Regions from separate parts of the Homo sapiens genome. Here region 2 is linked to region 1. Evidence: fine-mapped expression QTL. A gene starts in region 1. The other region holds a variant in brackets. All regions are shown on one strand. Distances are from middle to middle.

Region 1 (15,564 bases):
CCATTAAAGGTTTAGCTTACAGACACTGGTGCCAAAAAAAAAAAAAAAAAAAAAAAAAAAAGCAAGCAAAAAAATGTGTTTTTTTTTGTTTTTTTTTTTTTTTGGTAAGAAGGATGTTGAAATAGGAGAATATTTAAGCTGGCTAAACCAAAGCCAATTCCTGGAGGCTAGTTGCTTTTATAGTGAATGTTTAAATTTTCTCCATCAAATCTAGAAGGCTACAACGAAACAACAGCCTAAATGTCATGTACAATTCTCTAAGTACTGAAAGAGTTACACAATTTTAGAACCGAAAGGGACCTTAAACTCCTTCCTCTACCAATGAGGAGCCTGAAGCCTGCTAGTTAACTCACTTGCCTGGTCACTCTGGGGTTCACGGATTGTTATTGTTTGGTGGGGTGGTTGTTTTTGTGCTGTATATTTGTGTGTGTGGTGTATGCAGTACTCACACCCTTACAAACAAGAGCTTTGCCATTTATATTCTCCCCTTCCTAAGTTGCTCTTCCTAAGTTTACTTTCATCAGCAAAAAGAGTGATCAAAAAGAAAAATATATTCTGGCCAGTTCAAAGGGGACATTTCTTTTTCTCACTTGGCCTACTGCAGATATATTAGAGAGACACTTCACACCCAGGACAACTGACTTTTTAAGTGGCAATAACAATGAGCAGCGGAGGAGTTCTCTTCTCACTCGAGAGAGCAGAGGAGGTTTCTGAACTTTACCTTGACTTCCAGCCTACAAACTGTTCCTTCAACTACTGTCTCCGCTTGCCCACTTTGTTGCTATTCTTTCCTTAGTTTCCTTTGTTTTCCAGCTTAGGGAAGTTTGGTGGGAAAATTTTTCACTTACATTTTGTTGATATTTATTTCCCATATTTGGGTCCTACCCAAATTTTAGATTTAAGAGCAAAAAAAAATTACTGTTTAAGTGAAAGAGGAAAGGCTAAGTCACTGTTCAACATGGGCTAGATCTGATCTGAATTGGAGACACAGCCTTTGCAATTGAGGAAGGAGAGGTAAGCAGTAAACTTATACAGTTTCCTCCAAGAAGTGTTATACATAGATATTTTTCAAGGAAATTGGAATAAAGCAGTTTATTAATTGAGGGGAAGCTAGTTACAGTTAGCACCTGCCGCGGACTTTTTGAGGTTGTCGTCATTAACCAAATTCTTCGGGAAAAACAATCTTTGGCACCACTTACTCCAGACAAACCCTGTTTGGAACAGACAAGTGTTCTGACCCTATAGTCGCTCCAATGTCCACCAGCCACTCACGAGTGCCCTTAGGGCTTCTCCTTGGTGGTAGCATCCCAGAAATCCTACTAGTTTCAGAAGTGCCCTAGGAAGCCTACTTCTTGGATAATGGGCTCTGTCTGCAAAGCTAGGAGATCAGCCTAGAAAAAGAAACACACCAACAAACACCAGGAAACTATGTGTAATGGTTTGCTGCTTGTGCAAAAACCTCAAAGAGGATGAAGGTCAGACAGGGATAATAGGCCAATTTAATTCTGAAAGCACAAGGTGCAAGAAATTTTAATTATGGTCTGCCACTGAAATCACACAAGATCCAATGGCATCTAACTGCAACTGCTCATCAAGGGAGACAAGAGGTGTAATTGTAACCGCTGCATAATCACTGTGAGGGCACAGGGAAGGCTGCCTTCAGCTCCCAGCAGAGAAGGTATTAAGAGCCTCGAAAAATCCAATACGGGGAAACGAGATTGCATGTAGCCAAACAGAAGCTCCTAACACAAAAGCCAACCCGTGTGTGTGTGTGCGCGCGTGTGTGTGTGTGTGTGTGTGTGTGTTGAGGGTGAGGGTTCCAGAAAGAAAATGTGAAGCTGTTTGGCCCACACTGGGGATAAGAGATTGTTTGAAAACTCTGAACCCTTTTCTGTTTTGTGGATAAATGCACACAGAGAAAAGAGCACTGTCTCCTTTAGGTATTTCTCTCCTTGATGAAGCTTCACCCACTCTCCTTTGTTTAAGACAATTGGCTTGGATGTTACCGTGATTTACAGTACCAAACTCCCTTTAATTTGTTCCCATCAAACCCAAGTCTGGAGACAAAACGCCAAGCACACGACTGGAGGTGCCCAAGCCTGTGCAGCTCTGGCAGCGACGCCGCCGGCGCCCCCGGGCGTTTTCCCCGCACCCCACATCGCGTGGGCGCCCGTAAAGGCACGCGCGGAGAAAGCCCCTCCGTGGACTCCCCACTCCGCAAAGTTTAACAAAGCCGTGAAGTAAGGAAACCGAACCTCCCGTCCGCGCCCGCTGCAAAGTTGGCATTGAAGTTTGTGCCGGGATGTCCCAAATCTTGAGGGGGCGGGGGGCGCGAGTGTGCAGAGAGGCGGGAGGATGGATGCAGATGGGGAGACAGTGAGGGGAAGGGAGTTTTTCCGAGTGGACGGTCCGTGAGGCGGTTTTCTTCACCCGGAAGCCTGTTTGACTCAGAGAGGTCCGGGAGGTGCACGCCAGGGGAGGTCTCCCGGGGCGGGCGCTGTCGCCGAGGAGGCCGGCGAGCTGTCACCTGCGGGGGGCTGTGGTGGGAGCTGAGGGCGCTCTCCTAAGCGCCAAAAGAGGACGGGGACATTCACAGTCACCGGCTCTCGGGGCTCTAAGTAGTGGGGGAAGGGATATTCACGAGTGGGCAGGAGGCCAAAAGCAACACCTTTCGGATACGCTTTTCCCCTCCGACCTCTCCAACTTCCCGCGGCGCTGGTCAAGGACTCCCTCCCACCCCACCCCATCCCACCCAACCTCCCGGCCGACAATTCGGACCTGTCCACGGCAGAGCGTGGGGTGGAGTGCGGCGGGAAAGCAGAGGGCGCGAAGGTCGGGACCCCAAATTGCAAACCCTCAGCCCCTAGCAAAGACGACCAAATGCATTTACAACCGTGCAAGTATCTCAGCCTTGTAACAGAGCTCCGGGTTTGCGCCGGGCACAGTTCCCCGACTCTTCTGTTGTTCCTAATAAAGTCGATTACGTTGCCCTCCCGGAGCTGATTGGAAGGGAACCGAGAGGAAAAGGGGGGGAACGCGGGAAAAAGCGGGGGGGGGGGGGGGCGAGCAATCAACTTTGTAACCCAGCGCTTCCTCGCGCGATCCGTCGCCATGCTTAAGATTCCCACCCCCGCCGCCCCCCTCTTGCCTTTCAAGTGGATACTGAAACTAGGCCAAAACTTTTTCCCCTCCTTTTCTCTTAGCCACTAGACTGGATTGTGCCCCACGGAGCCCCATGGAGCTCTGCTTTCTTAAGCACAATAGCCGGACTAATTAGATCATAGAAGCAAGGCAGTGATACTGTAACAAGTAGCCCAAGAGGCAAAGAGGGAAGGGGCCCGAAAAGACAGAAAGGGGGAAAAGTTTGCAGCTCTCCGCACTTACCAATCAAGCCTCCCACCAGAAAGGCGATGATTTGGAACACGAGCAGAATCCCACCAACAATGCACAGCTTCTTGGTGCTCATGTTTTCTATAATTGCCCCAGCCATTTTTGCGCCCCCCCTTTTTCTTTTCTCCTTGAAATAAATGTTTTAGGGTGAGCTTTTTGCTCCCTCCTCTCACACACTCCCTCCTTCCTCGCCTCCTTTCTGGGCGCTGCAAAACTTCAGAGGTGCTGGAGCGCGGCGAGGATGGGACCGGGACGGAAGGCGCCCGCACGGATTCCCCCGGCGCAGCCGGCTCGGGTTCCCCCAATGCCCGGAGCTGTGATTGTGGCCGCTCCGCCGCCTGTGGACGCTTAAAGGAGCAGGGAAGCGGATCACATGACGCCGCCTCCCTCCCTTTCTTCCTCCCTCCCTCTCGCGCTTCCTCCCTCCCTCCCTCCCTCTCTTCCTCTACCCCTTGCCCACCAGTTCGGGGCTCAGAGCTCTGGCGGGTGCTGGCGCCTGGCTCCCGAGTCTGGCCTGCAACCTGTCTCTCCAAGGTCTGATGCCATTTAGGGGTTGCTGTTGATGTTAAGCGGGTTCCCCCTGCCCAGCTTCTCACAGGTTTCCTTTTCTGGTTTCCGAAGTGCGAGATTTAAATCACCGGTGGACCGCCTTGCAGACCTTTAACTTACGCGTTGACTTTAGGAAATGGTCCCCACCCCACCCCCAACTGCTAGAACTCTCTTTAGGAAAGAGGAGGAGAATTTTTTTTAAAAGGACCCAATAGATGCCTAAGTCAAAACACAGAGATGCGGAATAAAGTCTCAGCTCGACTTCTTTCTACCAGATTCCCAGCCTCGGTTATTGGGCACATACCCAGCTAAATTCCCCACGGCGCCCCTTGAGGAAACTTGCTCTCCAGCCAAATCAGACCACTGTTCGTTACTCCAGCACATGTGCTTCCACAGCCTTAACCCTGGTTATTGCCTTAAAGAGAACATGTTCTACTCCATCAATGTTAAACCTGATCCAAAACCAACTAGTGTTAAAAAATCTTTCTAATTTTCCACACCACCTCCATGCAGTATCTCTGGGAACTGAGCCCCTACAATCCTGTATTTACATTTTTACCTCCTATTGTAAGGATTTGTGTACACGTTTGTCTCCACCACTGAGCTGTAAACTCCTGGGGAATAGGGACCAAGTTTTTTTTGTTCTTTGTACCCCCCATGGTGCCTAACAAAATGCTAGCTCTAGTAGGTGCCCCATAATCTTTTGTGGAATGAATAAGTGAATGTGAAAGCAAGCCCACAGTTTGTATTTCAAAGGTCTAAAGAGATCTTAGTTGGTTTAGAGGGTACCTATATTAAGTTACAATGTTTGTTGTCTCTTTGTGAGAAATCATATATTTATATTTATACTTAACTTCCATAAAAAGAGGGGCGGGGCTCCCGATAGAGATTTCCTGCTCTATCAAGCCTAAATTTCTGGGCCTGGTTTTTCCATGTTTCATAAACTGGCCGCTTGGCCAGTACAACTCACCTTACTCAATAGACCCTTGGTTTGGTAAATACCCCACCCTGCTCCCCAAACGTGCAGTTTCTACCACCACCACCCACACATCTTGTTTCTTGTCCCTCCCATCCTTACACACCCTCTTCATGCCAAGAGACTATTTTTCCCAGTCCTCTCTCCTCCTCTACTCTGTTCCTGAATTTTCATTGCCCTTATAAAAGATGTCATGCAGGTTACACTTAATAGAAGCATTCATTTCTAATCTCCAAATAGAACAGAGACTTGTCAAGGACAAGCACCAAACTTTATGCATACAAAACTCCATCTCTTCAACATCTAATAGTTCTTAACAGTTCTGAGGATATACACATCATTATGTGTCACATAAGGATGTTTCAGTCAACAACAGACCGTGTGTGTGACAGTAGTCCTATAAGGTTATAATACCATATTCTTACAACACCTTTTCTATAGATATGTTTAGATACACAGAGTGCTTACTATTGCATTACAGTTGTCTACAGTGTTCAGTACAGTAACATGCCAGACAGGTTTGTAGTCTAGGAGCAATCAGCTACACGGTGTAGCCTAGGTCTGTAGTAGGCTATGCTACCTAGGTTTATGTAAGTGCCCTCTATGACATTTGCACAATGACAAATCACCTAACAACACATTCTCAGAAGGTATTCCCATCATTAAGCAATGCATGACTGTGGTTGCTGTTTATCTATTCTCTCATTCAACTCTTTATCCAAGTCACTTATTGAGCCTTTAACATGTTCCAGGCTTTCTTTCTTAAGCACTCAAGGATACCAAGATGTCAAAGTACTTGCACCTGCCCCAGAGGAACCCCCCCCCAGTCCAAATGTTATTCACTGAATAGTAATTAATTACCTCTACTTTGGCAAACACCAGGTACTATCAGAAAGGATGAAGTAGACAGAATTGTTGTCCTTCCAATGTCCTTCAGTTCAAAGTACTCAGATACCTTGGGGTATCATGTTCTGAGCCCAGCACTCCTAAGGGCCCATTTATCTTTCCTAAAAGTCATTTGTTTTCTCATAAATACACTTCTTCTCCTATTAAGATAGAATATAAGCTCCAAATTCTATTAACAACTGCCTCCTTGAGTGGTTATGAATGCCCACATACATTTGATATATGTGAACAAAAATTTGTCTTTTGCCTTGCTAATCTGTCTTTTGTCAGTTTAGTCCACAGACCCCCAAGCACTATGCATAAGAGGGTAGAGAAAAAATGGTGGGTTTTTTGTTTATTTATTTGTTTGTTTGTTTTTGAGACAGAGTCTCATTCTGTCGCCCAGTCTGCAGTGCAGTGACACGATCTTGGCTCACTGCAACCTCTGCCTCCTGAGCTCAAGCAATTCTCCTGCCTCAGCCTCCTGTGTAGCTGGGATTACAGGTGCCCACCACCACATCTAGCTAATTTTTGTATTTTTAGTAGAAATGGGGTTTCGCCATGTTGGCTAGGCTGGTCTTGAACTCCTGACCTCAGGTGATCCACCCACCTCTGCTCCCAAAGTGCTGGGATTACAGGTGTGAGCTACCACGCCTGGCCCCCGTCCACTTCAAATATAAACTGGATCCATAAAAAATGTCTGGAGTGGTAGAAGTGATTTATTCAGATTAGTGAACTCCTTGACTTAGTTTTTAATGAGCTGCTACAATACACCCCACCCCCTCTGCTCTGAAATGCATCTCTGCAGAGTAACTAGCCTAACTCCTTAGGTTTCAGTTTTCTCATCTGTAAATGAGTTGCTGGTTCTCCACCAAGATGATCCCCTGCTTTAAAAGAGCACTTATTAAATAGTTATTTTAATTAAAAAGGGATATTTCTAATTGCTAATCAGTACTTCTGTCATGAGATTACCAATAATGCCCAACTTGGTGGGATGTAGACACCTGTAGTATTCATCACCATGGGCTGCTTTAAAAAAATTGAATTTCTATCACATCTTTTTAAACATTAAAAGTGACTGTGAATCTTTATTTCCCAAGCGGACAACACAGGTGAATAGAAAAGAACATGACAGTTAGAGTCAGCTGGATCTGGTTTGGAACCCAGATCCCATCTGCCCCTTGTTTCATGTGATTATAGGCCATTATGCAGTTACTTACCACCTCTGAGGCTTCACAGACCAACTCTGAGGCTTCTGTAAAACCTTCACTCTTTACAGAAGAGTTTTCCCTTCCGTAAAATGGGAATAATAGTACTATTTCATGGTATTCTTGTAAGATATGAATATTTATTATTATATTTAGGAAACTAAGGGAAATCAATAATTTTGTGTTTAAAAACTAGTAAAACTAGTAAAACTGATGACTGATTATTGCTCAGCTCTAAAATTTTTATCATATTGTGATTACTGTTTGAAGCATATGTTAGGAGAAGTCTAGGTGGTTAACTTTACTTGACAAGTGTGTTAATAAGGACAACATCTAGAATTGAACTTTGACAATACTCAGTGGTTTTTAACATAGAAACATCTGTTCTAAAAACTTCCAGCTGCCAAGGAAATGTTTGTTTTGAGTCATTGTCATTAGGTAGATTATCCCAGAGACTGAAATGATCCAAGGGCAAATCCAACTCTGTCAATAAAAACTGATCATTTCAACTCCATTCCACTAGACTTTATATTAGGTATTCTGATTTATTCATCATTTTATTCAAAGTGTTTGGGATATGCCGGGCATGGTGGCTCACGCCTGTAATCCCAGCACTTTGGGAGGCTGAGGTGGGCGGATTACCTGAGGTCAGGAGTTCGAGACCAGCCTGACCAACATGGAGAAACCCTGTCTCTACTAAAAATACAAATTAGCCGGGCGTGGTGAGGCATGCCTGTAATCGGGAGGCTGAGGCGGGAGAATCACTTGAACCTGGGAGGCGGAGGTTGCAGTGAGCTGAGATCACGCCATTGCACTCCAGCCTGGGCAACAATGGCAAAATTCCATCTCAAAAAAAAAAAAAGTGTTTGGGATATGGAAGGTCATAGTGATGTTCCATGCGTATGTATTGAATAGATGAATGAATGCATGAATTCATGAATGAATGAATGGATAAATGGATATCTAACTGAAGGTAGATATAACTCCTCCCTCACCCCCAGTTCCTATATATAATTGACTGACTATATTCCTACCTGGCACCTATACACTAGACTGCATTTTGCACATGTATCTATATATGTGATGTGTTGTTACCCTAACTGGCTTGCAAATTCCTTCAACACAAGGAGAGTGTGATCTGAGCCTTTGTGTGCCTCACAGTCCCAGCACAGCACCTTGCACAGAGGAGGGCTTAGATTCTGAAGTTGAGAAAGCCTCCTTTGGAAGCCAAGAGCAGCACATTATTATTGGCATTGCAGTAAATGTAATGTAGAGTTCTAAAAAGATTGAATACATCTCCTGAAACATCTAATTTACTTCCCAGAGGAAACTAACAAGAGGAATAATCCCACTCTGAGTCTTCTCATTCTCATAAATAGCTTTTATCCATAAATGGCATCCCTATGGCTCCATGGTTGTTGGTATTTTCTGGTAATTGGTACCTGTGAATGTGAGCGAGCACTGTGGGTTCACACTCTATTATTCAGTGTCACTTTTCACCACACACACACACACACATACACACACACATATAGACACACACACACACAACTTCTTTTAAAATGCTCTTTTTCCCCCAAACAAAACCACCCCTCCCTTCTTTTTCTGCGGACCCCATTGTCTTATTTTGTATGGAGATACAAGACCTTTCTTAATGCCTCCTTTTACACAATAACTGTGGGTAGGAACTATTCAGAAAACCAATACTTCAACCTGATCTTCAATTGCTTAATAAATACCCCATGTCCCACTCCCGTTTTGCATCTCCACCTCCTCTGTAGATCTTCATTTCACCTTTTCTTTTACATTCCACAGACATTTCAGTCATTAGGCTTATTCAGTCACAGCTTTATGTCTTGCTAGCTGTGTAAATAAATGTGGGGAAATTACTTTTCTCATTTCTTGCAAAGAATAAATAATACCAGTCTTATGGGTTGTGATCATTAAACAAAATAAAAAATGCCTAGCACAGTGCCTGACACAAAGTGAATACTCAACAAATATGGCATGTTATAGGGGAGGAGGATTCTGTTCCCAGAGAGCAAAACAAAACAAAACAAAACAAACCATAAAACCCCTAATTATAGTCTCTCTTATAAAATTGCCTCTTTGAACCCAGGCAACCTGGAAGGGCAGGTAAGAAACTTTACAGGTTTCCAGAGGCCTCTAGTGGGAGGCAATCAACAGTTTGAAGTAGCCAGCCAGCCCCCTGTTTCTCAGGCTTGAAAGAAGCTGCAGCAGAGAGCTGGGAAGCCTCCAGTGTTTAAGCCTTTGAGATCACCTGTGCTGGGTTCCTCCACCAGAGGTGGGGAAAAGGGCTTTTTCTTTTTGCCAGTTTTCATGGTATAAGCCAAATAGGGGCTGAGCTGACTGCTCCTTCATGTCATGATGGCTCTTCTTCCCCGTCTCCCCATGAACTTTCTCATGCTGACAAGTTCCTCGATATCTGCTTCTCTCCGCGCAGAGTGGCAATAGGTGGAAAACCCGGGAAGGCCCAGAAACACCTGCCCCGGACAGTGATTCCTGTGATATGCAGACAACACCCAGTACCGTGGCAGACTTGGCACACAAATTTTTGTAATGAATAATGATGAATGAGCCGGGCGCGGTGGCTCACGCCTGTAATCCTAGCACTTTGGGAGGCCGAGGCGGGCGGATCACGAGGTCAGGAGATCGAGACCATCTTGGCTAACACGGTGAAACCCTGTCTCTACTAAATATACAAAAAATTAGCCGTGCTTGGTGGCAGGCGCCTGTAGTCCCAGCTACTCGGGAGGCTGAGGCAGGAGAATGGTGTGAATCCGGGAGGCGGAGCTTGCAGTTAGCTGAGATCGTGCCACTGCACTCCAGCCTGGGAGACAGAGCAAGACTCCGTCTAAAAAAAAAAAAAAAAAAGATGAATGAATAAGTTCCAGTCCCTGGCTATGCAGGGGTTTGGGGAAACCTCCCATAGACGGCCAATGTCAGGAAGAGAAGCTGAGGCTTAACCTCAGCATTAACCTAGATGTGTTAAGAATAGACGCTGACTCAAGCCAAAGCCCAATCTTTATCCCCATTGCAGATTAGCTCAAAATCATCACTAAGTAGCTCAGCATGAAGGACAATGTACCATAAAAACAGCTTAGGATGCCTATATGTAACATGGAAAAGCAAAGGTTGCATGAGGATAATATATATGAAAATCAAGGACCTCTCCTACTTTGCATTAGTGAAAAGAAACTGGAATGGCTGGGAGTGAGGGAGGACATCATTCCTCAAACATCAAATACAGTGGCAGTTAATAGCTCCTATGAATAATGCCAATAATTATAGCAATAACAAGAATGAGAACTTATGTTGACTACTTTCTATGTACCAAGCACTCTTCTAAATGCTTTCCCTATGTTATCTCCATTAATCCATACAACAATCCTGTAAGATAGGTACTATTGTAATCATTTTAAAAAGAGGAAAGCTGTTTCAGAGAAGTTAAGGAATATTCCCTTGGCCACATTGCTAGCAAATTGGGAAGCTGAGATTTTTTTTTTTTTTTTTTTGAGATGGAGTCTCACTCTGTCGCCCAGGCTGGAGGGCAGTCGTGCGATGTTGGCTCACTGCAAGCTCCACCTCCCGGGTTCATGCCATTCTCCTGCCTCAGCCTCCCGAGTAGCTGGGACTACAGGTGCCCGCCACCACGCCTGGCTAATTTTTTGTATTTTTAGTAGAAACGGGGTTTCACCGTGTTAGCCAGGACGGTCTCGATCTCCTGACCTCGTGATCCACCCGCCTCGGCCTCCCAAAGTGCTAGGATTACAGGCGTGAGCCACCGCGCCCAGTGACAGGCATTGTTTTAATGTTTTCTGCCTGCTCCTCTGTTCATGTGTTCAACTCTGTTCTCTTCCTCAGTACCTAACTCCCACTCAGAGCAAACTCCCTCCCATTAAGCCTTAAATTTTTATAATCTGTCTTTGCTGGTATTTGCTGCTAAGGGCTTTTCCAATTTGAAGATCAATTTTCAAGTCAAATGACTCATGAGAGTAATTGTTAACCATAATGCTAGAGTGTTTTGAGGACATTCTTAATATACATTAGCAAAAGACATGTAATACATAAAATTGATTTTGTCTTAGGTAATCTGCAAATTGAGTCTTATAATATTTCTGTTTGTTTAATTTGTTGTTATGATATGAATCCCCAGTGAAGACCCTCTTCGCCCGAGTTTGAGTTGTTTTGTGAATACTATTCATCTTAAGACAACAATGTATGAGGGCAAACATTTTCCTATTTCTGTTATATGTTGCTGTAGTTTGGCTCATCTGACCCCTCCAAATCTCACATGGAAATCTGATCCCCAAGGTTGGAGGTGAGGCCTAATGGGAGGTGTTAGGATCATAGAGGTGGATTCTTCATGAGTAGATTAATGCCCTTCCTGGGAGTGGGTGGTGAGTGAGTTCTCACTCTGTTAGTTCCCAGGAGAGCTGGGTGTTACTTCCTCGCTCACCACATGATCTCTGTAGATGCCAGCTCTCCTTTGCCTTCCCCCGTAAGTGGAAACAGTCTGGGGCTGCCACTAGATGCCCAATCTTCCAGCCAGTAGAATTATGAGCCAAATAAACGTTTTTTCTTTATAAATTACCCAGTCTACCTACAGAATGGGAGGAAATTTTTGCAAACTATGTATCTCACAAAGGTCGACTATTCAGCATCTATAAGGAACTTAAACAAATTTACAAGAAAAAAAACCTCGTTAAAAAAAGTGGGCAAAGGACATGAACAGACAATTTTCAAAAGGAGACATATATGCGGCCAACAAACATATGAAAGGAAGCTCAACATCACTGATCATTAGAGAAATGAAAACTACAATGAGATACCATCTCACACCAGTCAGAATGGCTATTATTAAAAACCAAAAAGCCCGGGTGCAGTGGCTCATGCCTGTAATCCCAGCACTTTGGGAGGCCGAGGCGGGTGGATCATGAGGTCAGGAGTTCGAGACCAGCCTGGCCAAGATGGGGAAACCCCGTCTCTACTAAAAAATACAAAAATTAGCCAGGTGTGGTGGCAGGCACCTGTAATCCCAGCTACTCAGGAGGCTGAGGCAGGAGAATTGCTTGAACCCGGGAGGTGGGGTTGTGGTGAGCCAAGATCATGCCACTGCACTATAGCCTGGGTGACAGAGCAAGACTCCATCTCAAAGCCAACAACAACAACAAAAAAAACACAGATGCTGGCGAGGTTGCAGAGTAAAAGGAGTGTTTATACACTGTTGGTGGGAATGTAAATTAGTTCAACCATCGTGGAAGACAGTGTGGTGATTCCTCAAAGATCTAAAGACAGAATTTCCATTTGACTCAGTAATCCCATTACTGGGTATATGCCCAAAAGAATATAATCATTCTATCATAAAGACACATGCACATGTATGTTCATTGCAGCACTATTCACAATAGCAAAGACATGGAAACAACCCAAATGCCCATCAGTGGTGGACTAGATAAACTGTGGTGCATATATACCATGGAATACTATGCAGCCATAACAAAGAACAAGATCATATCCTTTGCAGGAACATGGATGGAGTTGGTGGCCATTATCATTTGCAAACTAATGCAGGAACAGAAAGCCAAATAAATACTGCATGTTCTTACTTACAAGTGGGAGCTAAATGATGAGAACACATGGACACATAGAGAGGAACAACACATACTGGGGCCTATCAGAGGTGGAGGGTGGGTGGAGGGAGAGGATCAGGAAAAGTAACTAACGGGTACTGGGCTTAATACCTGGGTGATGAAATAATCTGTACAACAAAGCCCCATGACATGAGTTTACCTGTGTAACAAACCTGCACAGGTACCCCCTGAACTTAAAATAAAAGTTAAATTAAAAAGAGTAACACTAAATATAAATAAACAAAAATAAATTACCCAGTCTCATTTACTCCTTTACAGCCAAATGAATGGCCTTGAACATATGTCCTATCTGATACCTGAAGCATGAATGATTTGATGAAGCTTTCTTTCATTTATTCCATAAATATTTATTATGTGTTGACCATATGCCAGGTATCTGGCAAGTGCTGGGACACAAATGCAAAAATGACAGATATCTTTTACTCTCACAAAGTTTATAATCTCATGTAGATGAAAGGGTATTGGTGATACAATGACTCTATTAGCTGAGAGGGCAAGTCTTAAAGAATGACTGCTGTGCCGGGCATGTTGGCTCACATCTGTAATCCCAGCACTTTGGGAGGCTGAGGCAGGTGGATCACTTGAGATTGGGAGTTTGAGACCAGCCTGACCAACATGGAGAAACCCCATCTTTACGAAAAATACAAAATTAGCCGGGCATGGTGGCGCATGCCTGTAATTCCAGCTACTCAGGAGGCTGAGGCAGGAGAACGACTTGAACCCGGGAGGCAGAGGTTGCGGTGAGCCAAGATGGCGCCATTGCACTCCAGCCCAAGAAACAAGAGCAAAACTCCATCTCATAAAAAAAAAAAAAAAAAAAAAAAGAATGACTGCTGTAAGAGGTGTAGAAGAGACCTCAGACTGGAGAAAGCAAAAGGACAAGGATTGCTCTCCTTAGCGTTTTAGTGTGTGTGTGTGTGTGTGTGTGTGTGTGTGTTTTTACTATGAATATATATATTTTTATTTAGTCATTTTTGTTTACTATTGAAACTCTGGGAATTCACAATTAACATCCTTGCCCATGAGCTTCTTATAGACACCAGAAAAAGTTTCAACCTTGTGTTCCACATTGTTCTGTTGTGCTTTGTCCAAATGAACCTTTATGAGCCGGCTGCCATCTAGTTTGACGCGGATTTTCTTGCCCACAATTTCACTTGGGAAGACCAAGTCCTCAAGGATGGCATCGTGCACAGCTGTCACAGTGCTGCTCCTGGGACGCTTTTGCTTATTTTTTGTACAGCTTTTTCGAGTTGGCTTAGGCAGAATTCTCCTCTGAGCGATAAAGACGACATGCTTCCCACTGAACTTTTTCTCCAATTCACTTACTAGCCGGATTTGGATTTTCTGGAAAGATTTCAGTTGAGTAACGGGAACAAGTATTATGATAGCTTTCCGACCACCACCAACTTCAATTTCCTTGGCTGCCGTAATATTCAGCTCTCTGAGCTGAGCCTTGAGTTCTGAGTTCATCTCCAGCTCCAGAAGAGCCTGGGAGATGCCGGACTCGAACTCCTCCGGCTTCTCGCCGTTGGGTTTCACGATCTTGGCGCTCGAACTGAACATGGCCTTCTCCTGGGAGAACTCGCCGAGCGCCGGCTTATGAAGAGCTGCTCTCCTTAGCTTGATGCACAAGGTCCTCCATGCTTGGCTCCATTTGACCCTCACAGAGACAGCATGGTTCAGAGCATGGGCTCCAGAGCCAGATCACCTGGCTTTGCCACTTACTAGCTGTGTGCATGGGCCAGTTAGGTTAAATGTTTTGTACCTCAGTTTTCTCATCTGTAAATGAGATTGTAATGAATATTAAGAGGGTTTATTTGTATAAAGTGTTTAAAACAGTGCCTGACACATAGTAAGTTTAATATAAGTAAGTAGTCACTAAAAAAGGAGAGAAAAAAGTGAGTTTTTTCCTCTTCTGCCAATCCCGCAAGGGTACCTTGGTTTCTGTCCACTTTTGAAATTATTTTATTATTATTTGTATTTTACTTTAAGTTCTGGGGTGCATGTGCAGAACAGCGTTCTGTCCACTTTAAACATTTTAATAACCCACCCCAAGCACCACATGTTGTTTGACATATATCCATTAGTTATTATTAATGTCCATTATAAATTTATTGGACATCTCCTATATGCCAGGTGCTGTTACTCAATTATGAGAGGCAGTATGAGAAGCAAGGATTTAGGATCAAACAGATGTTGGTGGAATTCTGCCTTAACCATCATCTAGCTCTGAGACTTCAGGAAAGTAACTTAACCTCTCAGAGCCTCAGCTAAGTCACCTGTGAAATGGAGATGATGTTATCTTCACAAAATCTGTGATGAGGATCAAATATATTCAATATATAAAGAGTTGGCCGGGCGTGGTGGCTCACACCTGTAATCCCAGCACTTTGGGAGGCCAAGGCGGGTGGATCACCTGAGGTCAGGAATTTGAGATCAGCCTGGCCAACATGGTGAAACCCCATCTCTACTAAAAATAAAAATTTGCCAGGTGTGGTGGTGCACACCTGTAGTCCCAGCTACTCAGGAGGCTGAGGCAGGAGAATTGCTTGAACCCGGAAGGTGGAGGTTGCAGTGAGCGGGGATCATGACAATGCATTCCAGACTGGGCGACAGAGCGAGACTTTGTCTCGATAATAGATAGATGATATAGATAGATGATAGATAGATAGATAGATAGATAGATAGATAGATAGATAGATAGAAAAAATAAAAAGCTTAGCAAAATGCCAGGCATTTGATAAGCACTCAATAACAAGGAGAAACTAGAGGAGGTGGAGGAGGAAAAGGATAATCTTGGAGGTGGATACTGTTATTTAGTTAGAAAAGTGAGGTTCAATGCCCTCAACCCCTGCCCTCTCATCCTGCCTTGGTCAGAGAC
Region 2 (16,879 bases), 35 kb after region 1:
TTGTTAGACTGTCATATGAGAGAGATATACACTTCTATCTTATTTATACTACTTTTCATAAGTTGGGCTTTTGTTTAGCAGTAAAAGCTGGAATTTGGAATTGCAAGGGGAAACCAGGCTTATTCTCTTTTCCTCAACTATGATGTTTTAATTAGTCTTTCTTTAATTCTCCAGTTCAACGATGTCCACTCTTTTATACTTTTTAGTGGCACTATTTCTCTGTGATTTAAACAAACAAGGGATGTCCTAGTAGGAAACCATAATACATTCTCAGCATATTCTAATTATGACTGATAGTCAGCTTGTTCCTATGGTTGTTTGTAAGTATACAATGTCCCGAGTTTGTTTTACTAGAGAAATGTCCCTGAGTTCTATGTCCATGCTACAGTCATATATCACTAGCAGCTTTAATGACATGCTATAGTCAGAGTAAATGATCCTCAAGTATTTTTTTTCTATAAAAAGTTAACAACATCTTCAGTGAGTCAACCCATCCTTGTTCCCTGGCCATTACTGATTGAAGAAGACAAACTTGATGTGAGGGAGGCCAAGTACCTTGAGAAGACTTGGCAAAATCTCTGCCCAACAGAGGCACACAGAGAGGAGGAGACAGTGGAGGCTTTATCCTGAATTATGTTGAATTTTAACCCTGTCCTACATCCTATTCTTTAAAGTACAGGATTAGGGTCAAAAATAACTGACACCACGGCTGGGCACGGTAGCTCACGCCTGTAATCCCAGCACTATGGGAGGCCAAGGCGGGCAGATCACCTGAGGTCAGGAGTTTGGGACTGGCCTGATCAATATGGTGAAACCTCGTCTCTACTAAAAATACAAAAATTAGCCAGGCATGGTGGCAGGTGCCTGTAGTCCCAGCTACTTGGGAGGCTGAGACAGGAGAATTGCTTGAACCCAAGAGGTGGAGGTTGCAGTGAGCCAATATAGTGCCACTGCACTCCAGCCTGGGTGATGGAGCGAGACTCTGTCTCAAAACAAACAAACAAGCCAAAAAACTGATGGTACAGCTCTCCAGTCATAACCTCACCTTATTTTCATTACCTAAATTATTTGTAACAAACTCTCATTACCAAGGTAATCTGCTATTGACTATTCATTTGCAATCTTTTTGGGGTATTTTTTGGTTTTTTTTTTTTTTGAGACAGGGTCTTGCTTAGTTGCCCAGACTAGAGCATAGTGGTGTGATCACAGCTCACTGTAGCATCGACCTCCTGGGCTCCAGTGATCCTCCCACCTCAGCTTCTCGAGTGGCTGGGACCACAGGCATGCACCACCATATTCGACTAATTTTTTTACTTTTTGGAATGACAAGGTCTCACTGTGTTGCCCAGGCTGGTCTTGAACTCCTAGGCTCAAGCAATCCTCCCACCTCACTTAAGGAATGTTAAGAAATGAAAAGTGCTGAGATTACAGGGGTGGGCCTCCACACGTGGCTATTCATTGCAATCTTAAAGAAACTTACTCACAAATACATTAATGTCTGCTACTTCTACCTAATAATTGAGGAAAAAAGATGAAAAGAAAATACGATAGGTACAACCTAGACTTGGAGTTATACATCCTGGGCTACCCAGGACAGTCATAGGTTACACAACTGGATTTATATGCTGGATTTATACCCAGCATAATTGTTAATAATGCCCCTTTCAGGCTCAGAAGTGTTTCAGACGGTCACTCTAATGAGATTAGATGCAAAAGAGATCTTGTGTAAGGCAGAGGATACTTACATGTTGAATTGATGTGGGTATGACAGAAAAAGTTATGAAATTTTCTTTGCTGGAAGCTTCTAAAATTTATTATGCAACTGAATATTCTAAGAAAATGTGTCATATCCAAGGGGCTGAACAATAAATTTTGTTTCTGATGCTGTTAGAAGCAGGTAAGTTTTGAAATGTGTTCTGGGTAAACTGTTGGCCATAGGGATATATAAATTCATGTTATATATTAACACATCCAGAAGCTCCTAATTCATGCTTGGATTATTTTAGTATTTGACCTAATGTCTTTAATGAAATCTTAGCTATGTTCTTGATTTTTGTTTATATTTGTTTTTTCTAACCATAAGCACATGTCAGAGTCCACTCAGTGTCACTAAAATAGTCTCAGAGTCATTTGCTGCTACCTCTCCTATCATCAGCAACTCTTACGAACAAGTCACAGAGGATGTGCAAGCAAAGCATGCCAGAGATTGAAAATTAAAAATGGAATGCTATCAATGATCCTTGACTTCTGATCCAATAGCTTTTTGCCAAAGCTGTTTTCATAGGTTTCAGTGCAATATCTGGCCCATACATCTACTTCTTGGTGTTACATTTCATTTCTATTGCTTAATTATATAAGCTCCTGGCTCCTTATTTTTCATGGTGCGAACTGCTGACTGTTTCCCAATATATCAGTTTTCTCCTTGTGTATGGTAATGTCAATTCCCTTCTAGATGGTAATATGGCTGCCCAGCTAGAGACTAAAGACATTCGTCAGTCCCTTTGAAGCCAAGTGTGGCCATCTTACTAAGTCCTTGACTATTGAATATGAAAAGAAGATGTGTATATTATTTCTACATAGTTTACTTAGTGACAACTTCTTGCCCTAGACTTGTTTTCTAACCCCTTACTGAAAACTGGAGAACAGATATGCCAGTCACCCAGCCTTGACCATTAAGATGATGACAATGCCCTGACACCTTGCTACTTAGAGTGTGCGCCTTGGACTAACAGCATTAACATCACCCGGAAGCTTTTTAGAAATACAGAATCTCAGGCCCCATTCCAGGCCTGCTAATGAGAATCTGCATTTTAGCATGATCCACCAGTGATTTAAATTCATGTTAACATTTGAGAAATACTGCCTTAATAGGGTATAATGGAACAACAAAATGGAAGGAATCTAGGTCTATTAATTATTTTGTTGAGCAGAGCTATCTACTAGCCTGGTCTGCCCACCTATAGACTGTTATGGGAAAGCACAGTGAAATTCTATCTTACTAAATCATTGAATTTTGGGGTCTCTTTTTGATCTCTATTCTAATTTATATAGTTTTTATTCCTTGTAATAAGAAACCTACTTTTTAAAGCTCTGCTAGAGTCTTGTGGAGAAAGAGATGAGAAAGAATGTTATTTCCTTTTGGACTATTCTGGAGTAGTCCCTCCACCCTTTAGAGAAGTACCTAAATTTAACTCAGGCTATGTTGATTTATCTAGGACTGGGTGAGTGGGGAGTGCTCTTACCCCATCCTCCTGAGCATTACTCTCCATATTCCAACCATCATTTTTGGTCTCCTTGAGGATGCTGACTTAAGAAACTCAGTATAAATATTAAATGAACTGAATACAAAATGTCTCCGGAGATGGTTTCATCATTTTTTTTTTCCAGAAGACCCAAATTTGAGCTGGCAGCATTAATCAAATAGACCACATTTATTATAAAGTACATTAGAGCATGCACGCTCTCCTTTTAATGTATAGACTCTCACCCACTATTTAACAACCATTTTCTCCTTACTTCTTCCTTTCCATTCCTAGTTTGGTAAATGTGTCCTCTGGACTTGCAATTCCCATACTTCAAACCAACAAACATTTACTAAATGCCTCTTAAGGCATTGTGCTAGGCATTAGGTTAGACGCTAGATATACAGTAGTGATTAAGAAAAAACAGATCTGAGGCCAGTCATGGTGGTTCACTCCTGTAATCCCAGCACTTTGGGAGGCTGAGGCAGGCGGATCACCTGAGGTCAGGAGTTCGAGACCAGCCTGGCCAACATAGTGAAACCCATCTCTACTAAAAATACAAAAATTAGCTGGGTGTGGTGACGCATGCCTGTAATCCCAGCTACTTGGGGGGCTGAAGCACAGGAATTGCTTGAACCCGGGAGGTGGAGGTTGCAGTGAACCGAGACTGCACCACTGCACTCCAGCCTGGGCATGATCTTGGCTCACTGCAACACTGCAACCAAAAAAAAAAAAAAAAAACGAGAAAAAACAGATCTGGCCTCTGGCCTCACGCATAGCTTACAGTCTAACTGGGCAGAAGATCAATGAACAAGTAATTACACAGCTGAAGAATTTTAAGAAATGAAAAGTACTTAAAAATTTTGTAGTAACATTTATTGACTGAATAAATGGAGAAAAATAAATTGAGAATTAAGCAGCTTTCCTCCAAGCCTCCAGGGCAACAAGGAACACTCCCTTATTTTCCCTTTCCTGCCTTCCTTCCTCATTGCTTTGGGTTCACATTGGTTCTTGTGCCTGTGAAAGAGGAGTTAGATAATTAATCAGCTAAAAATAAGGATTCACAGTTAATGCACTTGGAAAGGGATCGAAAAGGAACTTGGCAAGATAAAAATACAGTCTTGCACTGCATAATGTCATTTTGGTCAATGACAGACTGCCTATAGGATGGTGGTTCCATAAAATTAAAATGGAGCTAAAAAATTCCTATTCGCCTAGTGACATTGTAGGCATCATAACATTGGAGCAAAACACATTACTCACACGTGTGTGGTGATGCTGGTTGCAAACAAACCTATTGTGCTGCCAGTTGTAGAGCACATATGATTATGTGCAGCACATACAATGATGTGCGGTATATAATACTTTGATAATAATAATAAACTTACTGGTTTACGTATTTACTGTACTATATTTTTATCATTATATTAGAGTGTACTCCTTCTATTTATAAAAATAAAAAGTTAACTGAAAGATGGTCTTAGGCAGGCCTTTAGGAGGTACTCCAAAAGAAGGCACTATTATCACAGATGAGAGCTCCAGGTGTATTATTGACCCTGAAGACCTTTTAGTGGGACAGGATGCAGTGGTGGAAGATAGTGATATTGATGATCCTGCCCCTATGTAGGCCTAGGTAATGTGTGTTTTTGTGCTTAGTTTTTAACTAAAATGTAAAAAAGTTAAAAAAAAATGATAAAAGTAGAAAAAAAGCTTACAGAATAAAGATAAAAAAATAAAATATTTGTGAACAGCTGCAAAATGTATGTTTTAAGATATGTTATTACAGAAGAGTCACAATGTTAAAAAAATTGAATTTATAAAGTAGATAAGTTACAGTGAGCCAAGGTTAATTTATTATTAATGAAAGAAAAATATTTTAAAACAAATTTAGTGTAGTCTAAGTGTAGCGTTTGTAAAGTATACAATAGTGTACAGAAATGTCCTAGACTTTCACATTTATTCACTACTCACTCACCAACTTACCCACGGCAACTTCCAGTCCTGCAAGTTTCATTCATAATAAATGCCTTATATAGGTGTGTTATATGATATTTTATTTTTACTGTATTTTCCTATTTTACAGTTTTCCTATGTTTAGATACACAAACATTTACCATTGTGTTACAATTGCCTGCAGTATTCAATATACTAACATGCTGTACAGGTTCATAACCTAGGAGCAATAGACTATACCTTATACCTGAGGTGTTAGCAGGCTATACCATCTAGTTCTGTGTAAGTTCCCTCTATGATGTTTGAATAACAGCAAAATTGCCCAAGGATGCATTTCTCAGACGGTATCCCCATCATTAAGCAATACATGACTGTAGTTACATTTTGGTGAAAAGCTTGTGGCTTACTTTCTTTTCCTTGATATTAACGTATTTGTTGTACAATATATTAAAATTGGGAATACAAAAGGTGTGTTTGTGTGTGTGTTAATCTTTTTAATCACTTTCTATGGGAAGCGAGATTGCATTTCATGTGCACGTGCCAATCTCTCACTGTTGCTCACTGGGAATGACTAATATCATTTTTCTTCCTTCTGGCCTAATGCAAACAAGCCACTGTGACATCCAATTTCTGATTTTTGGTCAATAGAAGGCTCAGATTTCTATTTTTGTATTGCCAAACAATTTGCAGCTTTAAATATTATTTTTGTTTAGTATTCACACATGATAATTTTTTTGGAGGTATCAGTCAAAGGCCAAAGCCTTTTCCACACAATACCACTGACCTTCCTTCAAAATCCATGGATGCAAAAGGACAGATAGTGGAGTGATAATTGGTGAAATAAAGAGGGAGTTGCTCCAGACAGGAGACGAAAGTTGCTGCTATTGAGACCAAGAAATGAAACCAAACTGTTTATCTATTACTGTATAAAAAGCTAACCCAAAAGGTAGTGGTTTAAAACAGCCATATTTTTGCCCATAATTCTCCAATTTGGGCAGAGCATGGTGGTGGCAGCTTATCCCTGCTGTGTGGTGCTGGACAGGGTGACTCACCTGGGCTGGAGAGTCTATGGTGACTTCACTCACACGTCTGGGGCTCCAATGGGGGTGGCTGGAATGTGAGGTATGGCTGGGCTTGTTTCTCTTTATACAGCCTCTCTGTGCATCATGGTCAATGAACTCTTTATCAAACAGCATCCTATTAAATCATTTGATTCTCACATTAATCTCTAAGGTTGTATCTTAAGAACTGAAAAAGAAACGGAGCCCTTTTACTTAGTCTTGTTTTCCCACTCAACCTGTATTTTTCTTGGAACTTATATGTATTTACATATTTCTGTATGCAATTTATTTACTTTAGTTTATTGTAGGTATTCTTATAAACTGTCCTAATTCTGCAGTACAGATACAAAGATAAATATGTGGTTTGTTACATAAATATGTTACTATTTATCTATCTTAAATCAGGCTCAGGGAGGTTTAGTGACTTGATCAAGGTTACATGCCTAACGCATGACAGAGCCTAACTTGGTACTCAGCTTTTCTGAACCTGTGAGAGCTAAATAATAAAATCCTAATCATATTATCTATTTTAGATTTTCTTAAACTCCTAGGTTATAGAAGGATCACATAATTATTAAACAGAGAAAAAAATTGAATATAGCAAATAATTTTTTTTTTTTTGAGACAGAGTCTTGCTCTGTCACCCAGGCTGGAGTGCAGTGGCACTATCTCGGCTCACTGCAACCTCCACCTCCCAGGTTCAAGCATTTCTCCTGCCTCAGCCTCCTGAGTAGCTGGGATTACAGGCACCTGTCACCACACTCGGCTAATTTTTTGTACTTTTAGTAGAGATGGAGTTTCACTATGTTAGCCAGGCTGGTCTTGAACTCCTGACCTCATGATCTGCCTGACTCAGCCTCCCAAAGTGTTGGGTTTACAGGCGTGAGCCACCACACCCGGCAGCAAATAGTTACATACCTTTTTAATTAGGTATAGTCACCATGTTGTACAATAGAGCTGTTGAACTTATTTTAACTAATTTGAACTTACCTAACTGAAATTTTGCGTCTTTTGATCAACATTTTCCTAAGCCCCCTACACTCTCTAGCCCCTGGTAACCACCATTCTACTCTCTACTTCTCTGAGTCCAACTTCTTTAGATTCCACATGTGAGATCATGTGGTATGTATCTTTCTGTGCCTGGCTTATTTCACTTAACATAATGTCTTTCAGGCTCATTCATGTTGTCACAAATGACACAATTTCCTTCCTTTTAAAGACCAAATAGTATTCCATTGTGTACATATACCACATTTTCTTTATTCATTCATTCATTGCTGGACACTTGGGTTGATTCCATATCTTGGCTGTTGTGAATAGTGCTTCAATGAATGTGGAAGTGCAGCTGTCTCTTCTATTGCACATACTGATTTCATTTCCTTCAGATATATACCCAGTAGTGAGATTGCTGAATCATATCATGGGTTCTATTTTCAATTTTTTGAGGAACCTCCATATTTTTTTTTCATAATGGATGTTCTAATTTACATTTCCACAAACAGTGTATAAGGGTTGCCTTTTTTCCACATCCTTGCCAACATGTTATCTTTCATCTTTGCAATAATAGCCATTCTGATAGCTGCGAGGTGATATCTCTCACTATGGTCTTAATTTGCATTTCTCTGTTGATTAGTGATCCTGAACATCTTTTTCATATACCTGTTGGCCACTTATGTGTCTTATTTTGAGAAATACCTATTCAAACCATCTACCCATTTTTGTATTAGATTGTTTTCTTACTATTGAGTTGTTTGAGTTTCTTATATATTTTGAATATTAACCTCTCATCAGATGTATAACAGATAATTTTACAAAGTAATATCTTATTTAAACTTCAGTTTACTTGAATTCCATTCAGTAAATACTTATTCAGCGATTACTCCATGC[C/A]AGGTGCTGATCTGTGTGCTTAGAACACATCTCTGAACAAAACAGATATTCCTGCCCTTGCAGAACTTACTTCCTAAAAGTGACATTTAGTAAACAAAACAACCAAATCATTTTACTGTGGGAAGAAGAATTTGCTAATGTTGTTGTGCAGAGATTGAGCAGGAACTTATAGTGATGATTTCATGGTATTATGAAATGATTTCATGGTTTTTTTGTTTGTTTGTTTGTTTGTTTGTTTTTTGAGACGGAGTCTCGCTCTGTCTCCCAGGCTGGAGTGCAGTGGTGCGATCTCGGCTCACTGCAAGATCGGACTCCCGGGTTCACGCCATTCTCCTGCCTCAGCCTCCCGAGTAGCTGGGACTACAGGCGCCCGCCACCACGCCCGGCTAGTTTTTTGTATTTTTTTAGTAGAGATGGGGTTTCACCATATTGGCCAGGCTGGTCTCGAACTCCTGACCTTGTGATCCGCTCGCCTCAGCCTCCCAAAGAGCTGGGATTAGAGGCGTGAGCCACTGCGCCCTGCCGGTATTAGTTTTTAAAAATATTTTTGTTAAAGAAAAATTCAACTCTGCCAATCTCTACTTAATTGAGAAATCTGTGTGAGCTTTACCCTTGGCTATGTCTCTTTAAACCCTTGAACTTCTCTGTCAATGATTTTTATGCAGATTCACAATTAAAATTCTAAAGTGTTCTTCATGTCCCCACCACTACTCCTCTCCTCTTAGGCTGACCCTGAAAAGACAGACTTCCAATGCTTCATGCATGGCCCTTAATTTTATTCTTACTCTTCACAGTTGAACACAAATATCAGCTTAAGTCCAATAATAATCTATTTGAGATGTAGATCTGCCATTTAGGGGATATCTTTTATTATGTCACAATCACTTTTTTGTTATGGCTTTTCACATATTAGAAGGGCAAATGCGATTAGCTATTCAAATAATAGAACAAGCAAAAATTGCTGCATAAAGATAATGATGCCATCCGAATTGAACCTAGGAATCCTGGCCGAAGGCACCACTAGTTGAGAGTTCAAATTCATGCTCATTGGGTGATGTGTGGAAGCTGATATTAATTTAGTACTTTGAGTGTCAATGTGCAATGTATAAGATTTCACACATTAAAAAAATACAAATTTGAAGCAGGGCACAGTGGCTCACGCCTGTAATCCTAGCACTTTGGGAGGCCGAGGCAGGCGAATCACGAGGTCAGGAGTTCTAGACCAGCCTGACCAACATGGTGAAACCCCGTCTCTACTAAAATTACAAAACTTAGTTGGATGTGGTGGTGGGTGCCTGCAATCCCAGCTACTCAGGAGGCTGAGGCAGGAGAATCATTTGAACTCAGGAGGCAGAGGTTGCAGTGAATCGATATTGTGCCACTGCACTCCAGCCTGGGCAATAGAGCGAGACTCCATCTCAAAAAAAAAAAAAAAAAAAAAAGATAAAAATTTCGAAATTTGAGAACCATCTTTATGAGAACAGCTCCTGATCCTGAAGTTCTTACAATTCAGCTCTGAAGGCCAGATAGATATTTTAAAATGTCAGGAAACAATAAGGCCACAAGGGGAAAAAACAAAGAAATGATACAAAATGATACAAGGACCAAACCGATGAATGGAGTAGGAAACAGGATATTTTGATGCAGATGATATAGTAGGTGCTTGATAACATTACCTCATTTAATCTTCATGACGATACAGTTTTACTAATTAGAATTTTGAATAACATGCAAGGGCCATTAAGGAAATTTCTTATGGACATATAGTTAGAAAGAAAAAAAACCAGTTTGCCTACCTTTAAAGCTCAAATGATGAACATTTAAATTGATTAACAATTCAAATTGCACTGAATTCAATTGAATTGAACATTTTCCAGGTCTTTCCAGTTTTTTCATAAGGCTTTGAAGATACCATGAAGGAATGTACCTGGAATTAGAACCACCAGATTTTGAACCCTGACTGTGCTACTTCCTACTGGTAACACTTTGCATCAGTCAGTTTCACATCTTCAAAATAGAAAGGACGATACCTACCACATATGCAGCCTATGGGTACATACTAGACATCTCTGTGAATGGGGTCAACAAAGTGCTTGGTTCACGGAATGCCCTGAGTAAAAACATGCAAGGTGAACAAGGCCCGATCGTTATTCCTTCTCTGTTTGAGGCTGGAAACAATGGAAAATCAACAGTCATCCCAGTCTGGTTCTTACAGGTTCAAGAAGAAGAGGAATAGTTATCCTAGTCTGGTTCACAGGCTCAAGAGATGCTTGAAACAGCTTTCTAAATGAGGTTTGGGAGTTCTTGTGGATTGCAATTACCCATCTTACTGCTGGACCTCATTAGCACATGTAATTGGAAACTGGCTCTGTATAATAAGGACAACAGGAGTCTCCAGCTCTGAGGCAATTACTGTGGTGTTACTCACTCTCCATCCCCTCATGAACACCCCAGCAGTTGCTCCTGAGACACAACCTCGGAAGCCAGGGAGAAAGAACCGAAATTCTCCCATTACTGTATTTCCTGTGGGAGTCTATGTGGGAGATTTTTGTTTCACACCATGTATTTGTGACATATGGATAAACAATGGCAACATAAAAGATCTTACAGAAATCTTCAATATTGGTTTCCTCAGAACACACATTCTTAATGGGGGACAATGTTGCCGCCACGGAGGTGAAAGTTGGTTATTAGGAAGGTTAAAAAAAATCTTAAATATAAAAATGTTTTGTGGCCCCTCATCATACGTAAACAGATATAAGGCATATATGTGGTATTAAAATTTCGTGGGGAGGGAATGATCAGAAAAGATCTAAAAAGTCTACTTAATAGGCAGAGAGTAGGGATAAAAGCGGGGAAAAAGGTTGAGATAACATGGCCTTAGAAAGAGTGTGAAGTTCTCCAGATCAGTTTTTGGCTCCAGAAAAGAGGCAGAAGATAGCTATTCTTGCTGCTCCATTCTCTGTTACAGATGGTTCTGGTTCATTATGACAATGATTAAAGGGGAGAGTTCTGAAGACAGGCTGCTTGTTTTGAAGCCCAGTTCAGTCAGATAGATCTGTATCATCTTGAGCTGGTTAATTAATGTCTCAATGCCTCATTTTTTTTCATCTGCAAAATGACTAGTGTAATATTGAACACTTCATGTTGTTGTGAGGGATGTAGGACTAAGTGTACATTTTCAAAAAGATAGGAGCAGAAGACATTCTGCCTTTGTGAAAGAGCTCTGGTTCCCTTTAATCCACATTCTCTAGGTGATCAAATCCTTGCAACATAGTTAAAAAAAAAAAACAAAAAACTTTGGGCAGGGTGCGGGGGCTCATGATTGTAATCTCAGCACTTTGGGAGGCCCAGGTGGTAGGATCACTTGAGGTCAGGAGTTTGAGCCTGGCCAACATGGTGAAACCCCGATTCTACTAAAGAAATACAAAGATTAGCTGGGCATGGTGGTGCACATCTGTATTTCCAGCTACTCAGGAGGCTGAGGCAGAAGAATCACTTGAACCTGGGAGGTGGAGGCTACAGTGAGCCAAGATCGCACCAATGCACTCCAGCCTGGGCGACAGAGTGAGATTCCATCTTAAACAACAACAACAACAATGACAAAAAAAAAAAAAATTGACAATTTTCAGAAATAGAAATATAGAGTAGCTAGAAATAGAATATATGGTTGGGGCGGCAGCTCACTCCTGTAATTCCAGCATCTGGGGACGCTAAGGTGATCCCAGCCTCAAGGAATCCCTTGAGTCCAGGGGTTCGAGGTTATAGTGAGATATAATCACACCACTGCACTCTAGTTGGTGACAGAGCAAGACCCTGTCTCTTATGAACAACAACAAAAAATACAGAATATAGAAAAGAACAGACGTAGTATATATTTCCATAACATGAAGGGTTCATTCATGTTAGTATTTTGTCATATGTATGCTCTATCTTTATTGTATAAAATTTAAAATTATGCAAGTTATATATATATATATTTACACACACACACACACACACACACACACTCCCTTTGTTCCTTCTATACTCCCAGTCCTACCATAATGAAGCACAGTTTTTGAAAGTGCCGACTGACTGCCTGGTATGATTTACTGAGTGATGTTCTTTCTGAACGGGTAGACTGAGGGACCAGCCATCTCCAGATTCATAACTCTCTACCCAAACAAGGTAAATGTTTCATTCAGATGAAGGCCAAACTGACATTTTCTCCATTAATTGGAACAACATTTCTTATGCACCTATTATATGCCAGACATTTTTGAACTGGGAGCAAAACTGTAGCTCCAGGCCTAGACATTAGTTTTTCAAAATGAAAATCCAGGTAGCTGGAGTGAGTTAAGTCAGTCTTCATACTTGAGGTGACGTTCCAGATATGTCTCACAAATGCTAATGGATAACTCACTTCTATTAAAAACAAATCCTAAAAGCGAGGTGTGATGACATGCACCTGTAGTTCCAGCTACTCAGGAGGCTGATGTGGGAGGATCACTTGAGCCCAGGAGTTCCATGTCAGCTTGGATGACATAACAAAAGCCTGTTTCTAATAAAATAAAATAAACCCCAAATCTCATGGTGGCATTGGAATTATTTGCAGACAACTCAGTCCTTTTGGCTTTCAAAGTAGGTCTCAGCAAAGGAAGACGCAAGCTACTGGTTTAGGATTAAACCTGGGGAATCAGACTGGTCTGGACACTTGGTTTGCCAAGAGGCCTGGTAGTGGAGAATTCTGTGACTGGCAAATGCCTAGGAGGCAAAGGAGTGAAAGTCTTGAGTTCTGAGAGAGACAACCTTTGGGTTCCTTAGGCACTAGGCAGTGGCCCAAGGCACTGGGATCTTATGTAAATGGCAGAGCGCCCCAGGAGCTTCAGGTATGCTTATCTGCTCATCTAATGGAGCCAAGGAGACAATCTGTTTAGATAACAGGTTGCAAGAGATAATGGACTCTGCTGGGAATGGCATGTTCCCTCCTGGGGGGTAACCCTTAGATCTTGGAATTTGGCTGAGAGAAGGAGGCAATGCATGGTGCTCCTGCAGAGGTCTGAAAAACAGCTGTGGAGTGCCTCACATGGTTTTCATCATGGCCTGAAAGTGTTCTCTCTCTCCATTGCCCGCCCCACCCCCCAACCCATTTACTCTAAAAGTAAAAATAAATATGTTAAATATTTTGGAACCACCCACTAAATAGTAATTATAGATGGTAGTAACTAATTACACTATTATCTATCACTTTTTAAGTGCTTCTGGATGGCCAGACCCAGTGTCAGGCTGCTCTCATGACCCTGAGAATCCAGAGGAGGGGTCTCCATGTGACACATAAGACTTGCACAGGTAGAGAACTTCATTCTTTCATTCACTTGCCCACTATTCGGGAAATGTTTATTGAGCCTTTTCTATATTCTAAGAAACTGTGCTGGTGCCTCAAAGAGTTCATAATTTCCCACAACAAACAAGGGGAAGTGATATAACTAAAAGTTACTTTGATTTTATTTTATTGAAATTGGTGGAGAAGGATGGCCTCTATACCAGAGAGGAAATGCTGCGGCACTGGGTTTTTAGCACAAGTCAAAAGAAAAAAATCTCCTTAAACAAACTCTGGGGTGGAAGGAGGTGGGATGGGGAATATATGGAGCTAAATGTATTTTTGGAACCTGCAAAGAAGAAAAAAAACAAAACCAAAAAGCCCAACTTAGTACTTCTTTTTCCAGGGTTCTTTCCTTGGTCTGTTTCCTAGCATCTTGTGCTAGCCTCTATCTTAGAACAGTATTTGTAAAATACTTACTTGTCTGTTTCCAACAAACTGCAAACAGATTATAGTCAGACTCCTTGCAGGTAGAGGATATTTTATTTAACTTTTTTTCTCTAGTACCTGAAGCATTTTAAAAAGCTCTTTTAATTTGAATGAAATGAAAAGATGACTGACTGAATGAATAAATGGATGGATGAATAGATGGTTGGAAATCTCTTTTAATTTAAATAAAATGAACGGATGACTGACTGAATGAATACATGAGTGGAAGCATGGATAGATGGATGGATGAATGGATGGATGGATGGATGGATGGATGTATGGATGGATGGATAGATGGATGGATTTCTCTTAGGTGATTCTCCTGTACACATAAGCAGAGACATACAGATTCACACGGAGAACAAAATCACACAGATTTATATATATTCCCAGAGAAACACACATATAAAGACATTGTTCTCATTACCAAAGCCCTCCTTTCTCTTGGCCTAGCCATCTTATGTGGCCACTTCACCCATCCCCATTCATCTTCTAAGCTCAATTCTATCAGCTAAGCCCCCTCCACCACCACCACCACCACCATTCTAACCTCCCTCTCTCAGCTGACACAGGTAACAGTGAGCTGACAAGTTGATCTAACAGTATGCCTAGAACACCAGGGGAGCTTCCAGAAGTCCTGGCTTTTTGGCTCTCTACGGCTCTGGAAGGGATTTGTCCCACCTATGTTGTTCTTATTTGGGGCAATTTTAACCTGGGCAGGAGAAAGGGAGGCAGGCTCCTGGAAGTGATATTCAGATAGGATGAAGATGTGAAGACCACTGAGTTTCCTCAAAGTACAGACCCCTGTTAGGTGTGAAGGAAGCAGAGAGGAACTAACTTTATGGAGTGTCTTTGATGTCCCAAACATTCTGCTAGATGTTTAAGTGAGATGGCTCATCTAATCACCATGAAAATGAAAGTTTCCACAGAGGTGCTATTATTCTCATTTTGCAAATGAGGAAGCTGAGGCTGAGAATGAAAAGGGACTTGGCCAAAGCTAATAGCTAAGAAGTGACTGCCACCGGCTTAGGAACTATTCAGATTCCTGATGCTGAGGCCAACAGACATATTTCATTTCTTCCTTCCAGGCCATATTCTTTCACTGAATATTTACCAAGTGTCTATTAGATATACAAAGTACTGGAAGCCCAAACGTGGGATAGAACCAGTCTTTGTCTTTAAAACATGTATATTAGGCTAGGCACGGTGGCTCACGCCTGTAATCTTAGCACTTTGAGAGGCCAAAGAGGGAAGATCATTTGAGGTCAGGAGTTCAAGACCAGCCTGGCCAACGTGGTGAAACCCTGTCTCTACTAAAAATACAAAAATTAGCCAGGCATGGTGGTGGGTGCCGGTAATCCCAGCTACTCAGAGGCTGAGGCAGGAGAATTGCTTGAGCTCAGGAGGCAGAGGTTGCAGTGAGCCAAGATTTTACCACTGCACTCCAGCCTGAGCGACAGAATGAGACTCTGTCTCAAAAAAAAAAAAAAAGAAAGAAAAAAGTAGGCCGGGAGCGGTGGCTCACATCTGTAATCCCAGCACTTTGGGAGGCCGAGGTGGGTGGATCACAAGGTCAGGAGATCGAGACCATCCTGGCCAACATGGTGAAACTCCATCTCTACTAAAAATACAAAAAATTAGTTGGGCATGGTGGCGTGTGCTTGTAATCCCAGCTACTCGGGAGACTGAGGCGGGAGAATCGCTTGAACCAGGGAGTCGGAGGTTGCAGCTAGCCAAGATCATGCCACGGCATTCCAGCCTGGCAACAGAACAAGACTTTGTTTAAATATATATATATATATATATATATATATATATATATATGAATATGACAGAGGAAACAAATGGTACATTATTGTAAGATATATGAGAGAAATGCTCTAAAAGAGATATCAGCAAATTTCTTAGAAGGTTGGAAGAAGGACAGAACACTTCCTATTGAAGGAAAAATGCAGCATTGAGCTGGGTCTTGAAGGGTGAGTCTTATTTTCCCAGAAGGAGATGATGCTGTTGGAGAGAAAAAAGCTTTTTCTCTACCCTCTTATGGTTAGTGCTTGAGGGTCTGCATATTAAACTGACAAAAGACAGATTAGCAAGGCAAAAGACAGATTTTTGTTCACATATATCAAATGTATGTTGGCATTCATAACCACTCAAGGAGGCAGTTGTTAATAGAATTTGGAGCGTGTATACTATCTTAACAGGAGAAGAAGGGTACTTACAGGAAAACAAATGTTTTTTAGGAAAGATAAATGGGCCCTTAGGAGTGTTGGGGCTCAGAATCTGATACCCCAAAGTATGGCACCTTGGCATGCTGAGTACTTTGAACTGAAGGACATTGGAAGGACCTCAGAAACAGGGTTTCTCTGACCTCTTCCTACCCTCCTATCTCCTGTCTCTTTTTCTTCGCCTAAGTAAATGAGTCATAGAAACCAGAACTCCTCTTCCCCAAGGTGGGTCATAGAAACCAGAACTCCTCTTCCTCCAAGCATGCCATAAAACCTAGGAAGTCCACTCTTCTCCTTCTGTCTTGAAGAATCTCATTCCAGAGGAGTCCAGCCTCATACCCAGGAGGAAGGAATGTTACATAGGGAGGCCGAGAAGAATCTGAACAGAAAGGCAGGCCTGGCTGGGTTTCTCCTGTCAGTCTGTTAGCATTAGATCATACCTTTTTGTCTAATCACATTTCTATATGGCTGTCAGTTCTTCATCAAACCTAAGCATAAAAACAGACAATTTTCCCTGGGTCTTTGGCTCTTTATTTCTCAAGGCTCCCATGTCACATAAAACTTTGGTTAAATACATTTGTCATGCTTTTCTCTTGTTCTCTTGCCTTTTGTTATAGGAGTGTTGGCCATGATCCTTATGATGGGTAAGAAAAGTTATTACACCTTTCCTCTTCTACAGGAGGGTAGATGGGAGACACCATAGTTTTGTGACAATGT

Alleles and levels. Alleles are on the strand shown, and positions count from the first base shown. SD is a standard deviation of normalised expression in the study named.
For the expression in whole blood of the gene that starts at base 3,714 in region 1, C is the low allele of the variant in region 2 and A is the other (small effect, 0.37 SD a copy in GTEx).

What was found.
Region 2: its variant is fine-mapped to the expression of WLS in whole blood (GTEx, PIP above 0.99).

The regions. Positions count from the first base shown.
Region 1 is chr1:68,228,810-68,244,373 of GRCh38, forward strand. WLS (Wnt ligand secretion mediator) reads right to left here and starts at 3,714. Exons shown (of 12, transcript NM_024911.7): 1 at 3,385-3,714. The coding sequence starts at 3,490. It also overlaps the pseudogene RPS7P4.
Region 2 is chr1:68,263,557-68,280,435 of GRCh38, forward strand. No RefSeq gene overlaps it. Among named protein-coding and RNA genes, the nearest start is that of WLS, 39 kb to the left of the region's middle. RefSeq lists enhancers at 12,785-13,412, 14,494-15,078. The variant C/A (reference allele first, on the strand shown) is at 8,144.